Linked DNA regions of Homo sapiens: region 2 is linked to region 1. Evidence: fine-mapped expression QTL. Tissue or cell type: whole blood. Region 1 holds a variant in brackets; the other region holds the start of a gene. All regions are shown on one strand. Distances are from middle to middle.

Region 1 (8,103 bases):
GTCAACAATAGATATCCTTAGAAGTTAAGCTACTGATAGTTGAGTTTTCGGATATTACAGCTAAGCACATCCTTCTTTGCTTTCCCTGTTCCTACTCAGCCTTCCAAAGCCAGGTAAAACCATTATCTCCTTCATACAGTCATTCAATAAATGTTTGCTGACTAACAACAAATATTTATAGAGCACGCATATGGCCTCTGCTCGGTTTTAGGTGACAGTCTAGTGGGAGAGAGACAAAAACAATAAATAAATTGATTACAAATTGCGATGAGCTTCATACATATACATTAAACAGTGGGGTGCTGGCTGGGCGCAGCGGCTCATGCCTACAATCCCAGCACTTTGGGGGGCCCAGGTGGGCAGATCACCTGAAGTCAGGAGTTCGAGACCAGCCTGGCCAACACGGTGAAACCCCGTCTACTAAAAGTACAAAATTAGCCACTTGTGGTGGTGCGCATGTGTAATCCCAGCTACTCAGGAGGCTGAGGCAGGAGAATCGCTTGAACCTGGGAGGCAGAGGTTGCAGTGAGCTGAGATCGCTCCACTGTACTCCAGCCTGGGCGACAGAGCAAGGCTCTGACTTAAATAAATAAATTAAATTAAATAAATGAGGGGGTGCTGAAATAGAGAATGACTCCTTTAGGTAGAGCAACCCCAAGCTTCCAAAGCCAGGTAAGCCATTTTCTCCTTCATACAGTCATTCAATAAATGTTTGCTGACTAACAAGAGATATTTATAGAAGACCTATATGGCCCCTGCTCGGTTTTAGGTGATAATCTAGTGGGAGAGAGACAAAATACGGTAGGAAGCCCTCTCTGAGGAGGTAACATTTAAGCAGGCACCTGAATGAGTGCAAAGTGCAGGGCGGGGCGATGTCCAGGAAGTAGGAATGAGTTGGGCCAAGCCCCAAGGGTGGACATGGCTTAGTGTGTTCGAGGAACTGGAAGAAACCCGTGTGGCGGGACAGTGGACAGCAGGGAGGAGACGATAACATTAGAGGAGGTGGAGAGAAAGCAGAGCCAGATGGCACAGCAGGACAGAGTATGGAATCTATTTTAGGGCAACGCCACCAGGAAGTGGCACGGTCTGATTTCTGTTTTAAGAAAATCCCTCCGCCTCCCACGTGGGAAACAGGCTTCCTGAATCCTTCCCGGTCTCTCCTGCCTCCCTCTGCCCTCACCTCTGTTTTAAGCCTCTGCATTTTTGCTCTCACCCCCTCCAGACCACAGTCTCCTCCCAGGATGAGATCGGGTGTAACTCGTCTCCAGCTCAGCACCCTCACTGTGGCCAGTGGGCCCCTCTTCTCCCCACGGCAGTCGACATCCGGGAAGAACTTCCAGGCACTGGGCTGGGTACCGAGGGTAATAAACTGACAATTCCATTTATGGACAGTGGCCTCATGCACCTCACAGGCCTCACACAGCAGGCAGGGGTGGGCCAGGGCCACCAGGAACCAGCCCCAGGCCTGGGGTTGCTCAAAGTTTCATAACTGTGCCCGTGTCCAAAAACAGAAGAGCCAGGCAATTCTGTCCTCCCATTAATGTCACCAAGCTGGACTTCTTCCTACCCCAGCTGCCCCCTGGCTCCCCCACCTCCTTCTTTGACGCAGTCAGGCTGTCCAGGGACAGAAGAAGAAGGACAGAAAAAGAACTCATTCCTTATCTTGGAAAGCAACGTTGAAACACCCTCACATCTCTACCAGCCCTCAGGCTTTGCGGGGAGCAGGAACTCCACCACCTCCCATAAGCTCTCTGTCCTGGGTGGCAGCTGGCAGCCTCTGCCATCAGAGCATGGCTTGTGTCATGGCTCCAGGATGTTCCAGGTGAATCAGCTCTTGGGGTCCCAAGAGAAAGAGAGATTTGGCTCAAAGTGTCTTGGTCTCTTCCCTGTGCAGCCTAGTCACATCCTTCCTCCCGACATTTATTACTCCAGACTGTGTTTCAGACACCAAGCCATAGCTTCCTGGAACACCGAGAGCCCTTGGAGATCAACTGGGGCCTGGCCAACACCCAAGGGATCCGAGCCATACCCCAGCCAGTCACGGTGGCTGAGCACAGCCACAGTTCTCAGTCGGGGGGCGGGGGCAGTAGGCGCCACAGAGCTGCATCAGCACCTCGGAGAATCTGAATCACAGCCCCCACACCCCCACTCTGTGGTCAAGACCCTCCGGCAGGATCGCTGGGCAGCGTGTGGTGAAGAGCTCAAACTCCAAGCCAAACTGCCTGGACTGGAATCTCAGTCCCCCCACTCACTAGATACGGCATCTTAGGCACGGGCCTCAGTTTCCACATCTGTAAAATGGAGATAACCTTCCAGGGTTGGATAACCCTGACCTGTGATGTGCTTAGGACAGGGCCTGGCACATAGCAAATGCTCTAAAAGAGTTGACTGTGTTGCCAATTTGTAAAATTCTGTGAGATCCTGTCTCCTTTGCCATGCCGCTGCAAGGTTATACGCAGATAAAACTTAAGTTACAATTCCGGTTTTCTTCAAGATCTGAGACATGTTAATTGTCTTTGTTTCTCGCTCTGGTAACATCTTCCCGCCGCACATATTTCCCGCCTTAAAGAGTTTAAAAGGTGATCAAAAAATCTAACACTGGCTACCCGCTTGGGACTCCTTCCACGCTGTGGAAGCTTTATACTGTCACTCTGCTTAATAAAGCATACAGCTTTTTTTTCTCTAGGAAAAAAAAAAAAAAAGAGTTGGCTGTGTTGCTATTTGCCATTGAGGCTCCTCAAGTCAAGGAAAGGTAGTGGCTCGCCCAAGGCTGCCAAGTGAGCCTGTAGCAGATCCAAAGCTGGAACCCACGTCTCCTAACTTCCAGACCAGTGCTCAGCCGCTGAGCTCACCAAGGCTTTGGATGGTCACAGGGACTTTTCTTTGCTACCTTGGAGGAAACATTTTCAAGGCATTGCGCTGCCACCCATCACCATAAACAGAGACTCACACTAGGCCAGGCGCCGTGGCCCACGCCTGTAATCCCCATACTTTGGGAGGCCAAGGAAGGCAGATCACCTGAGGTCAGGAGTTCGAGACTAGCCTGGCCAACATGGCGAAACCCCGTCTCTACTAAAAAATACAAAAACTAGCCAGGGCGTGGTAGCATGCACCTGTAATCCCAGCTACTCAGGAGGCTGAGGCAGGAGAATTGCTTGAACCCGGGAGGCGGAGGTTGCAGTGAGCCGAGATCGCACCACTGCACTCCAGCCGGGGTGACAGAGCAAGACTCCGTCTCAAAAAAAAAAAAAAAAACAAACAAACAAAAACAGAGACGCACACTGTCTCCCTGGGGACACACAGAGATTGAATCACAGAGACACAGCGTAAGTGTACACACAGTCACAGAAACACTGACATACTGAGGATCACAGAAGCACATGTGCGCACACACGCTGCACCCCACGATCCAGACCTCACCATCTTCTCTGCTCTCTTTCCTTCCTCTCCCCCTCCTTTCCCTCCGAACACGCTTATTGTGGCTGTTTTCCCAAAGTCCCCAGCCTGTCATTTGAAGGAGAGATGATGTTGGCAGCTGCTGCTGCTGCCAGCTAAAAGCCAAAACTTCTTGTTTCCAGCCTCTGATCTTGGTGTCCCAGCTCACCTGGGGAGCCAGCGGAGGCTGTGGGGTGGAGGCCTTAGCTCTGAGCCGCAAGCCTCCAACTGCAGCTGCCTTTTTCTACCCTCATTCACCCCCAGGATGTCCCAACTCAAGGGCAGCTGGGGGCTCT[C/T]GCCAAGGCCGTCTAGAGTGGGAAAGCCGGGGGTCTGCATGATCCCCACTATCAGAGCAGCTCAGCAAGACCCTCCCTCCAGAGCCCTCCAAGTTGTATAAAAGATCAATCCTCAGACTCCGACAACATCAGGGCCGCAAGGACCACTCCCAGCCATCTAATCCGGGTCCCTCCTGTTACAAATGGGGAGATGGAGGCTCAGAGAGGGGGTGAGATTTGTCCAGAGTCACACAGCAGAACCCAACTGGTGGCCAGGGCTCTAGACTCCCCACCTGGGCTTCTCCTCAGCCTCACTCTGAAGGTCGCAGCGTTGATGAAAGCCTGCCTGGGCACCAGCCTGCTGCTGACCCCATATCACTGCTCCTATAACCCCTTCTACACAGCCTCGCTGCAACTCCCAAGGCGGAGGCCGGCCAGCTCTTCTGTGACGGTCTCCAGAGTCAGAAACCTTCCCAGAGCCTGTCTTGGTGATTTATTTGCCCCTTCCTTCCTGTTTATTCAGCCCCTTGGCAAAAAGCCCAGAGGGAGAATTTATGAGAGGAGAAGGAGGGAAGTGGGGAGAGAAAGAGAGGTGGGGGGAGCAGGGGCGGGGCAGCTGGGGGAAGATGAGTATGGGCTGATAAAAGGAGGAAGAGAGTGGCTGTGTGCAGTGGCTAACACCTGTAATCCCAGCACTTTGGGAAGCTGAGGCGGGTGGATCACCTGAGGTCAGGAGTTCGAGACCAGCCTGACCAATGTGGTGAAACCCCGTCTCTACTAAAAATACAGAAATTGGCTGGCTTGGTGGTGGGTGCCTGTAATCCCAGCTACTCGGGAGGCTGAGGCAGGAGAATCACTTGAACCCAGGAGGCGGAGGTTGCGGTGAGCCAAGATCGCGTCACTGCACTCCAGCCTGGGTGACAGAGTGAGACTCCATCTCAAAAAAAAAAAAAAAAAAAGAGGGAGAGAGGAGGGAGAAGTTCAGGAAAGAACAACACAGCGTATGTTCGTGTGAGAGGAAGAGAAGACAAAACAGCACGTGAAGCCAGCGCTGGCTTTGGATGAGGGATCCGTTTGACATGGATCTACCTGCCAAGGGAAGATCCTCCTGGAGTATCCCTCAGCTGGGCTGCCAAGTGCTCCATGGGATGCCTGGAGTTGGAGAGGAGGTCCTGGGTGCCCAGGCCACTCCCAGGCAGATAGGCAGCTGGGGACACTGCACCAAGGAAGCTCCTGCCTTCCTCAAGATCCCAGTGTATTCCTTCCTTGGGCTGGTGTTCTCTGCCTCCTTCCAGGTATTCAGCAATGCTCTGGGAAGGACACAGGGTGCCTGATAGCGATTGACTGCAGCGGGGGCTCTAAAACGCTGGTTGGACACCAGGCAGGAAACAGCCAGGTCCTTGGGTTCTGACTGATTTGATGCATGGCCTTGAGCAAGATGCCCCCACTCTCTGGGCCTCAGTTTCCTCCTCTGTCCAGTGAGGGGATAGACTGGAGATAGCTAAGATGCCACCAGCTCTGACAGTCCAGGGGTTTGTGACTCTAAAGGTCATCAGCTAAATAGCATCACAGTGCAGTAGCCCCTCCTCCTGCCCAATCCCACTTCCATGCTCCGGGAATTGCAAAAGCACCCCAACATTTCATGTTCCCATGGTCTCCCCTGCTTCTGGGGGCCTGATGTCCAGGGCAGCACCAACCTCCAGCTGAAATCGGCTGCTTCTTCAAGGTTGACCTCCATCCACCCACAGAAAGCCTCATGAACACAGCAGCCTTAAGTGAAGTTTTCAAGGAGACGAAAATGGGGGGACAGGCATCTCTGTGCTCAAATGCCTTCCGATGTATGGGAGAAACGACATAATACCTAGGATAGAAATGAAGGGGGGAAGAGATGAAACCCAACTCCCCTGAGTCGATCATCATCGGACTCATGATGGGCACACGGAGGTTTATTATCCTGCTCTCGCTACCTTTGGGTATGTTTGGTAATTTCCATAATAAAACTCCAAATAACAACAAAAACTAAAAATGCGTCTTTCTGAGTCACCTATGGAATGCACAGTAGGGGAGACAAAGAAGCAACTCTTGCTCTGAAGAAACAATAATGTGATACGGTCGGTGCATTTTGAAATCTGAGGAGGCTTAGAAGAGCCTATTTCCTGGTGGTTTGCAGAGGCGGAAGCAGCGATCCAGTGGAAAACCAAATACACGGTTGCTTTCCACCCTGTTGACAAAATCATGCTTCATAGTCAAGTTAAGCTCCTTAGACCCATTCTCTAGTCTAAACTTACCCGCCCTACGCTAATGGTGCATCTTGACCAGTGTTCTTCGTCCTTTTGTTGTATACACAGCTTTTCTTTTCTTTTTTTTTTTTTTGAGACGGAATTTCACTCTTGTTGCCCAGGCTGGAGTACAATGGCGCACAATCTTGGCTCACTCCAACCTCTGCCTCCCGGGTTCAAGTGATTCTCCTGCCTGAACCTCCTGAGTAGCTGGGATTATAGACATGCACCACTACGCACAGGTAATTTTTGTATTTTTTGTAGAGACGGGGTTTCACCATGTTGGCCAGGCTGGTCTCGAACTCCTGAACTCTGGTGACCCGTCCGCCTTGGCCTCCCAAAGTGCTGGGATTACAGGCGTGAGCCACTGCACCTGGCCTCTTATTTTCAATTAAGTGTGTCCACAGAACTACTAACATAGTTTCTGAAAGGGCAAAAAAAAAAAAAGGGTAATTTTAGTCAAACAAATATTTTCATGAAGTTAAAAAAAAAAAAAGCGCACCAGTCCCCCAGTCTCCCCTCGGCTCCTGCTTCCTTTCCCCCGTCTTCTCCCCCAGTGCCTCCCCACCTGGCGCTATGCCCGGACTCTCCCCCTTGCCTTCTACACAGTGGTTTTGCCCCCTGCACAGCGGTTTCTCCCCCTTCCCTCATGCTTTGCAGCCCTTTCACACACCCAGGCCTATGACCCACACACTCGACAAGGACCCCACAAAGACTTCCCTCCCCAAGAAGAGCCGTGGGGCTACAGGATCGACACAGGCCCAGTGAGGCCAAAGTGTGGCTGGGAACAAAGGAGGCACGTCAAGGTGAGGTCCAGGCCATCTAAGCATCTATAGGGAAACATCTTGCCTTGTGGGACCAATTGCACTGGGAGCAATTTGAGGCCCAGGGCCCTCCCATGCCCAAAAGTTACCCCCAAAGTGGCTCTGCTGAGCCCACGCCTTGTTCTGCATCCTAATCCGGCACCAGAACTATATGGGAGCTAAGGACTGCCAAGGCTGGGTGCCTCATCCTGCAGAGGAGGAGTTCCCACCTAGAAAGGAAGACCCCTTGTTCAAGCTCACAGGGCAGGGTTTGTGGGGATTAGACACAAATCTGACCAGCCTCTCTCCTGCATAGAACCTTGTAGTAACTCCCACTGCCCATGGGACAAGGTCAGACGTCCTGACACACAGGCTGGCAGGACCTGCTCCTGCCACCCCATCCACCCACCTCCCACTGACCTTGCCAGCCTTGCACTGTCCCTTTTCCCCTCCGTCTTTATTCAGATGACTGTAACTCCCCCTTCTTGACTCTGCCCACGTCCTCTCTGGGCAGCGTTTCCTGACACTTGTCCACTAGCCCAAGTGGACTCCCGGGTTCCACTTGGGCAGAGCTGGGATTAAAAGTGAGACTCGGCCAGGCATAGTGGCTCATGCCTGTAATCCCAGCACTCTGGGAAGCCGAGGCAGATCACTTGAGATCAGGAGTTCGAGACCAGACTGACCAATATGGTGAAACCCCATCTCTACTAAAAATACAAAAATTAGCCAGGCATGGTGGCATGCACCTGTAGTCCCAGCTACTCGGGAGGCTGAGGCAGGAGAATTGCTTGAACCCAGGAGGCGGAGGTTGCAGTGAGCTAAGATCATGCCACCACACTCCAGTCTGGAAGACAGAGTGAGACTCTGTCTCAAAAAAAAAAAAAAAAAAATAATAATAATAATAATAATAATAAATAAAAGTGAGACTGTCCACCTCCAGAACCCACGGCCCCATCCGCTGAGCTCTGCCGCTCCAGCCAGGGAGGGAGAGCTGGCTGGAGACCCAGTTTCCTGATTCCCAAGCCCGTGCCTTCCCTCACTCCCCTGTGCTTCAGGGCAGAGGTGGGCTGCAGGTTGGATGGCGGCCACAGGGCCAGAGGAGGTTCTCCAGGAGCAGGCAGGGGTGGTCTTCCCGGTGCTCTTTGCAGAGTCCCCTAACACTCTGGTTCTTGAAAACCTCAAAGAGAAGGAAAGTCCAGAGTAGGGCTTGGGCCCGGTGGAAAGGAAGATTCTTCCCCTCCCTTCTCACCCAATACCTTTGCTTTCATGGAGCCCAGGCTGAGACCAAGTGAGGAAAGATACTTGCCCAGA
Region 2 (8,103 bases), 98 kb after region 1:
TGATAAGTGCCACGTCCACCAGCTTAATGTAAGTGAGCACTGGATTCTCTCATGGATCTTGGCGCCTCCTTAGAACCCTGTGACTTAGAGGCAAAATCCAAAGTCTAAGCTGGCTGGGGATGGGATATTCCAGCATTCACCTCCCTGCACCCACTGTCTCCAGTCACACTGCAGCAACTGGGTGTACCTCATCTTTTTAAGGGAGAGGGGAGGAGGATGAGGAAGACCCATTACAGGCCCAAGGACCCCACCCAGCCTGGAACCACAGATTAAATCTCTCCTCATTAAAGCATGTCTCGGCCGGGTGGTGGCTCACACCTCTAATCCCAGCACTTTGGGAGACCAAGACGGGTGGATCATCTGAGGTCAGGAGTTCGAGACCAGCCTGGCCAACATGGTAAAACCCTGTCTCTACTAAAAAAATACAAAAATTGGCCAGGTGTGGTGGTGGGCACCTGTAGTCCCAGCTACTTGGGAGGCTGAGGCAGGAGAATCGCTTGAACTTAGGATGCGGAGGTTTCAGGGCACCGAGATCTTGCCATTGCACTCCAGCCCGGACAACAGAGTGAGACTCTGTCTCAGATAAAATAAAATAAATAAAGCATGTCTCATGTTGGAAGTAGGGGGTGGCAGAGGGTGCAGATTGCAAAAGGGACTGGGATGAAGGTGGTGGGATATAGCTCCCTACTCCCCACCCCCACACCCTCTGTTCAACCTGAACAAGCTCTTCCCCACGCTGATGTTTTAACACCCAGTATCTTCCCGGTTCTTCATCAAGTGCTTTCCTTCTATTTGCATGAATTTCACAACAGTGCTGGGAAACAGCAAAATCAGTACCTGGCATATAGTGGGTGCTTAAGAAAACCCTGCTGTTGAAATACTCTTTTACAGATGGGGAAAACGTGGCTTAGGGAGATTAGATGAGGCACCCTCAGTCTCACTGTTAGAAAAGGGTTCTGTTAAGACTCCAACCTATATTATTCCTTATCTTCAGAGGCAAATTCGAGTTAGATCAGGAGTACAAGCTCTGAAATACAAGGAGTACAAGGCTGAAATCGGTCTTGGTTGATTTCAGCCTTTTCCACTTACTGGCTGTGTGACCTTCTGTTAGTCACTGAACCTCTCTGAGCCTTCCAGTCCTCATCTTTCTCGTCAGGGTTGAAGCACAGATTAGAAACCACGTGTACAAAATGCCCAACATGGAACCGGTGCTCAGTCAACGGCACTGCTGCCCCAGCCCCTCCACAACATTACAGAGCAGGCTGAACTTGCTGTGTGACCTTGGGTAACTCACCTTCCCTCTCTGAGCCTCAGTGTCATCATTTTTAAGATGATTCTATTGGACATGCCCATCTGGTCCCTCAGCATCCCCACTTAAACCACTGGTCTGAGCCTTGGGTCCACCCACACCTGCCACACCCTCCACCAGGGCTAGTCCCACCAAGCCACATACCTTGAAGCCGTCTCGGGTCACCTGGCCCTTCTGAAAGTTCCTCATGAACTCAGCATTCTCTGCCTGGGTGTGCACCTCCTTGGTGGCCTCCTTCAGGGCCTCTGACAAATCCTGGGGCATGCTGAGGAGGAAATGGGAAAGGTGAACACAAAGCTGGCTGGGGGTGGGGTCCTTCCCAACTGCTGAGCCTCCCACCTGTGGGCAGGCCTTCAAGAGACTCCCATCCTCATTCAGGCCACGTTCTCAATCGCTTTAAGATGCAGCCTTGTGGCTGGGCACGGTGGCTCACGCCTGTAATCCCAGCGCTTTGGGAGGCCAAGGCAGGTGGATCACCTGAGGTCAGGAGTTCGAGACCAGCCTGGCAAACATGGTGAAACCCCGTCTCTACTAAAAATACAAAAATTAGCCGGGCATGGTGGCAGGTGCCTGTAATCCCAGCAATTATGCCTGTAATTGCTTGAATCCCGGAGGCAGAGGTTGCAGTGAGCTGAGATCACACCACTGCACTCCAGACTTGGTGACAGAGAGACTCCATCTCAAAAAAAGAAAAAAAAAGAAAAAAAGGGCCAGGCATGGTGGCTCACGCCTGTAATCCTAGCACTTTGGGAGGCTGAGGCGGGCAGATCACCTGAGGCCAGGAGTTTGAGCCCAGCCTGGCCAACATGGTGAAACCCTATCTCTACTAAAAATACAAAAAAAAAAAAAAAAATAGCCGGGCATGGTAGTGGGCGCCTGTAATCCCAACTACTTGGGAGGCTGAGGCAGGAGAATCGCTTGAACCCAGGAGGCAGAGGTTGCAGTGAGCCGAGATCGCGCCACTGCACTCCAGCCTGGGCAACAGAGCAACACTCCATCTCAAAAAAAGAAAAGCAAAAAAGCAAAAAAACAAAAAAACAAAAAACAAAAAACAAATTCAGGCTGGGCATGGTGGCTCTCGCAGCTTTGTAAACACTCTTCAGTCATTAAAACACTAAATAATACAGTCCCCCAAACCAAGGGGGAAATCCTGGTACAGGTAGTTCGCAGTGGAGAGGAGGAGGAGGTACAGCATAACCCAGGAAGAAGCAGCAGCCCCATGAACCGGCATCTCCAAGTTTGTAATTGCTTTGATTGGCTTTTAGACCCAATATTTAATTCAGTTATTTTGTTAAAGTTCCAGATGCAAATCTCATGACCCCCTATCATGTTATGCTCATCATGAAGGCGTCAGGGTTAAAAAGCCTGAGAAAGTCTGCTTTAGTCAAAGAAAAAGTCTTTCTGGGAGTATTTCTGTCATGGGTCCGTATCCCTGCCTCCCCACAGAATTGTCATTTTTCCCTTTTCTCCTGCCCTGCTTCCCTGTTCTACAACACAGCTGGTCAAAGTCTCAGGAGAAATGGCACATGTCTGTAAGTCCCAGCTACTCTGGAGGCTGAGGTGGGAGGATGCTTAAGCCCAGGAGTTAAAAAAAAAAATACTAACAAATTATTGAAAGAAGGGAATGAGTGAGACCTGGAGGTGGGCAGACCAAGGTTCAAGGCCCAGTTCTGACACCAGCTAACTGAGCACTCTTGGGCATGTCGCCTCCCTGAACTGGGCTATCTGTGAGACATGGAACACCGCAGCCAGGGTGATGTCTGGCTCAGGTCCTCCGTAGCTAGTGAGGGACAGATGCCACCAAGAGAACCAAGCATGCTCCCCCAGGCTGGCAGAGCCCCAGAGATCTAGATTCAGCAGAGAGCAACTCCAAACACACCTCGAAAGTAGGATTAAAAAAAAAATTGGCTACCTCAAAGACTGGATACTCTAGGGACACTCCCATCTTGGTCACCAACCGCATACCAGGGTGCCAGGCATGTAAATTACCGTTCCTCCCTCCAACTACCCTACGGGCACAGGCAGGATCAGAACCCCGCACCTCCTGACTCCAGAGCCCAAGTTTCTGGCTCCTGGGCTCTGTCGCTGTGTGGCAGTGTCCCGGGGTGGGGCTAGGACGCAAGCAGGGTTGGGAGAGAAAGGCGCCCGTCCCGCGTCCCGCGCCCCGCGCTTGCCTGTCGGGTTGCGGACGCTCCATCCGGCCGGTGCTGGGCTCGTTCGTGCTGGCTCCGCGGGCGGCGGCTGCGCTGAGGACGCTCGAGAGGAGGCAGGCGTTGACTGCCGGAGCCGCGGCCGGTCACATTTATGCTCGGCGGGTCACGTGGGCCAGGCGGAACAGCTGATGCCCACTTTCTGGCCGGGCGTTGCAACACCCGCAGGGGCCCGCGCCCAGCCCGCCCCGGGCCAGTGTGGGGTGGAGAGGAGCAGTCATATGACCCTTGGGAAACAAAGTCTGGCCATAGGACTTTTAGAGAAAACACACACACACACACACACACACACACATACACACACACACACACACACACACACACACAAAACCTTTAAGGAAATCTGAGAAGCTGCAGGCTCTGGGTGTGATTTTGCTCCTTCCAGAGCCCCCCCTTCTGCTCCCTGTCCCCTTGGGACTTGATGCACCCCAGGCGTCCCAGAAGGTTCCAGAAAGCTGGGAGGCAGCGCTGCTCAGAGCAATAGCCTGGTGGGCAACATCAGGAACTTAGCAACCCCAGGCTCTGCTGTCTCCAGCTCCCTAAAATGTCACCTGCTGGAATCCTCTGCTGACTGCTTGCCTCCTCACACCCTCTTTAAATGTACATTTAGGATCTGTTTTTTGAGTTCCTGTCAAAAAACAGAGACTCTAGTATTTTCATGGTTCATCCCTACAACTGACCTGTGAGGGTAGATCGCTTCTATTTTACAGATGGGGAAACCGAGGCTCAGAGGGGTGCAGTGGTGTCACACATAAAGCAGGATGCCAGTGTCCAAACCCAGGGAGGAGACTAAGTCCCCGCCTGCCTCCTCCACACTCTGGCAGCACCTGGTATCCGCCTGGACTGGGACACCTGTCATACAAACTGCTTCCCTGCTGGAATGCGTGGGACACTCTTCCAGGCACATTCAGGTCTGACTTATACTCAGTGCCTGCTCAGGGCCCAGAGCAGAGCTGGCCCTTGCTGATCGCCTATTGAATCAATTCTGCATGAGGTGGACTCCTTAGAACTCGGGGGAAATAGGGTCACTGGGTGAACCCAGAGGACAAAACGAATGGACCAGATGATTCATACAGTCCTTTCCCAATACTGTGATTCTCATTCTAAGATTTTTTTTTTAAGATGGCTTTCAGGCCTGGCATGGTAGCTCACACCTGTAGTCCCAGTACTTTGGGAGGTTGAGGTGGGAAGAGCGCTTTGAGCCCAGTCGAGGTGGGAAGATTGCTTTGAGTTCGAGACTGGCCTGGGCAACATAGGGAGACCCTGTCTCTACAAAATATAAAATAAATTAGCTGGGCATGGTGGCACATGCCTGTGGTCCCAGCTACTTGGGAGGCTGAGGCTGGAGGTTCACTTGAGCCTGGGATGTAGAGGCTGGAGTGAGCTGTGACCACGCTACTGTATTCTAACCTGGGCAACAGAACAAGACGCTGTCCCTCAAAAAAAAAAAAAAACAAAAAAAAAAAAAAAAAACTTCCTGGAATTCAGCCTAGGGCCACTACAGCCCAGAGGCACTTCTGAGATTGTATTGGAAAGGATCATCCTCCCAAGGGTGAGCTAAGGGGCCTTGAAAAAAATTCCCCTTCTTCCTCTGAAGGTTCCCCGAAAACCAACCGACAAAAGTCAGGTTAAGAGGAGAAAAGACATACAAAAATGTATTGTAATGGGGTAATCACGGAAGAATGGTGACCCTGTAACCCAGTGGAGTACAGAGGCTACCCAGCCTTTTTTATAGGGGAGAAGGGAGATAGGGAATGCAGACAATTCTTTTGAAAGACAGTAAATCATTAGCAAGAAGGAATGGCCCTGGAGGTGAAAGGCCGACTTTAAGGGAAGGTGGAGGTGGAGCCGCACAGGGACAAAGGTTGTCCTAGGCAGATAAAGTCCCCCAGGTAATCTCTTGGCACTGTCCTCAGAAGAACAGGTAAATCTGTCTGGGTCTGGTGATGACTCCCAGTCTCTTTCTCTCTCCAGTGGTTGATCTTTCCTGGATATTTGATGAGATTACTAGAAAAAGGGCTTAACACTGGCCGGGCGCGGTGGCTCACACCTGTAATCCCAGCACTTTGGGAGGCTGAGGCAGGAGAATCGCTTGAACCCGGGAGGAGGAGGAGGTTGCAGTGAGCCAAGATAGTGCCACTGCACTCCAGCCTGGGTGACAAGAGCGAGACTCTGTCTCAAAGGAAAAAAAGACTTAACACAATTGCATTTCTTTTGTAAAGAAGTGTTCTTGGTCAGATAAGGAAATTCCAGAGAGCGTCTCTCCCTGTGCTTGTCGGGGGAACAAGACAAGCTTACAGGGACCTTGACTCTGAGGCAGCTCCTAAGGCCTCTCATCATGTCAAAGCACCAGTTGTCCTGGTATCACTTTCTGAGCCCCAACAGTGGCATGTAAAGCACAAAGGTGGAGACCTTGCCTACTACTTTGCTTTGTAAATTCCCAGTTCCTGGAATAGTGCCTGGTAGGTCACAGTTAATACTGAATGCATGCCTGAATGAATAGATGCTTCAAGGTCTCTTTCTGGGAAAAAATAATAATATTGTTAGGCTGTAATATTGCTGGGCTGATAGAATGGGCTGGAACCAAGCCACAATTCCAAACTGTCATTCTAACCAGCCTTTATTGAGAATTTACTATGTGCAGAGACTTCACGCGCGTGATTGCAGCCCATCCTGACAACAGCCTTGCAAGCTATTTTCATCTCTATTTTGCCCACATGAGCACTGAGGGACAAAGAGGATAAGTCATTTTCCCAAGTCATACAGTTAATGATGGAAGAGCCAGGATTCAAACTACAGCACTTTGAAGCCAGTCCCCACAGTCCTGACCACCACACTCCAACCCTTCTCACAGAGGGTCCAGGAGTTTAGGGGAGATGAGTTTGCGTGTATAGATCCAGAGTCTGTCCATTCAGCGACCCTAGAGGGTAAAACTCATGAGATCTGAACCCTTTTTATTTAACACAGGGAAGCAGGGACCCCAAGAGCAGGAGGGACTTGGCCAGGCTATGCCCCCCATTGGAAAGAGAACCTCCAGTGACCCAGGGTTCCTGGCTGCCGGTCTGGGCTTGCTTTCTTTTCTAACTGTTCTCTGGGAGCCCCAGACTTCGTTAGAACAGCCCCCCACACAGTGGGTTGCTGGGGTGCAAGAGGCCAGGCCAGAGTTGTTCTGGTCCTCTAGGCTGTCCCAGGGCTGAATTTGTGGCCCTTTCGCATGCTGATTCAGCCTCCTGACTTCCCCTTCTTTTTAGTCAAGCAACAGGATGATCCAAATGCTATTCTCTCTCCTCCTGCTGGGCCAAATAAAAGCCCCTTAAAGGTGTCCACATTCTAATCACCAGAACCTGTGAATAGGTTACCTTTTTGCTACCTTACATAGCAAAAGGATCTTGCAGAAGTGATTAAGTCAAGGATGTTGAGATGGGGAATTATCTTGGATTATCCTCTTGGGCCTTATAAGAGGGAGGCTGGATGGTTGCACATACAGAAGGTGACAAAGAAAGCAGAGGACAGAGAGAGAGACTGGGAGATGCCATGCTGCTAGCTTTGAAGATGGAGGATGAGGCTGGGCACGGTGGCTCATACCTATAATCCCAGCACTTTGGGAGGCTGAGGTGGGCTGATCACCTGAGGTCAGGAGTTCAAGACCAGCCTGACCAACATGGTGAAACCCCCATCTCTACTAAAAATACAATAATTATCCAGGCAAAAAAAGTAGAGAACTTTCTCCTGCTGGAGGCAGAAGAGATGAGGCAGATGCAGAAGTCAGAGAGATGTGAAGCATAAGAAGGCCTCGGTGGATTGCAACATTAAATCAGGGGCAGATTGAGGTGGACTTCACAGGGTGGGAGCTGGGGGACCCAGCAGGGGAAAGGCACAGACTTAGAAAAGACAAACAAGAGGCTTCTGCCGTTTTCTAGAAGTTTCACTTCCTCCTGCCTACCATTAAAGCTGCCCTTTCACCTCCCACCTAAAGAGAAGCTGAGGAGGCACTGGTGACTCAGCAAAATCTAGCAAAATCCGCCTTCCCTTTGTTTCCGCGAGTCCCCCCTCCCAAACATGACGCAGCAGAAATGCAGCTGCACGAGGGGATGAGGAAATCGCGACTCAGCATTCCCAAGGCGCCTTCAGGAAACAGAAGTGGTTTGGGCAGCAGGGAGGGGGGCGGGTCAGTGACTCGCCAGCCCCTAACAGTGAAAAACAAAGGCGAGGCCCTGGCGTGGGAGGAATCATGGGGAGGCCTCTTGGCCAAGCTGGATGGTGGCTAAGGAGAGTGAGGAGACCTTGCCTGGATATTCTCCTCAAGCAGGGGACGTCCCCAGTAAATAAGGTCACAGACGGTGTCCTGACCACACCCACACCCCACACAGACCCAGAAAGAACATGTGCTCGATTCTGCAGGGCAGGGGCTCCAGTGAGGGTCTACAGCCTAACTGCTGTGTGACAGGCTGGAAAACAGCCTTCTTCAGCAAGGAAGACAAGCCCAAGTTATTTTTTAAAAATCCATAGACTGGGCCAATTGTGGTGGCTCACGCCTGTAATCCTAGCACTCTGGGAGCTGAGGTGGGTGGATCACCTGAGGTC

Evidence for each region. PIP is the estimated chance that this variant, and not a neighbour inherited with it, causes the effect.
Region 2: HMOX1 starts here. The variant in region 1 is fine-mapped to the expression of HMOX1 in whole blood (INTERVAL, PIP above 0.99).

The regions. Positions count from the first base shown.
Region 1 is chr22:35,474,242-35,482,344 of GRCh38, reverse strand. No RefSeq gene overlaps it. Among named protein-coding and RNA genes, the nearest start is that of RASD2, 63 kb to the left of the region's middle. RefSeq lists a silencer at 3,243-3,420. The variant C/T (reference allele first, on the strand shown) is at 3,732.
Region 2 is chr22:35,376,577-35,384,679 of GRCh38, reverse strand. It overlaps HMOX1 (heme oxygenase 1), which reads right to left and starts at 3,584. Exons shown (of 5, transcript NM_002133.3): 1 at 3,484-3,584; 2 at 1,454-1,574. The coding sequence starts at 3,506. RefSeq lists silencers at 3,314-3,483, 3,784-3,863 and enhancers at 7,098-7,337, 7,299-7,846, 6,944-8,103.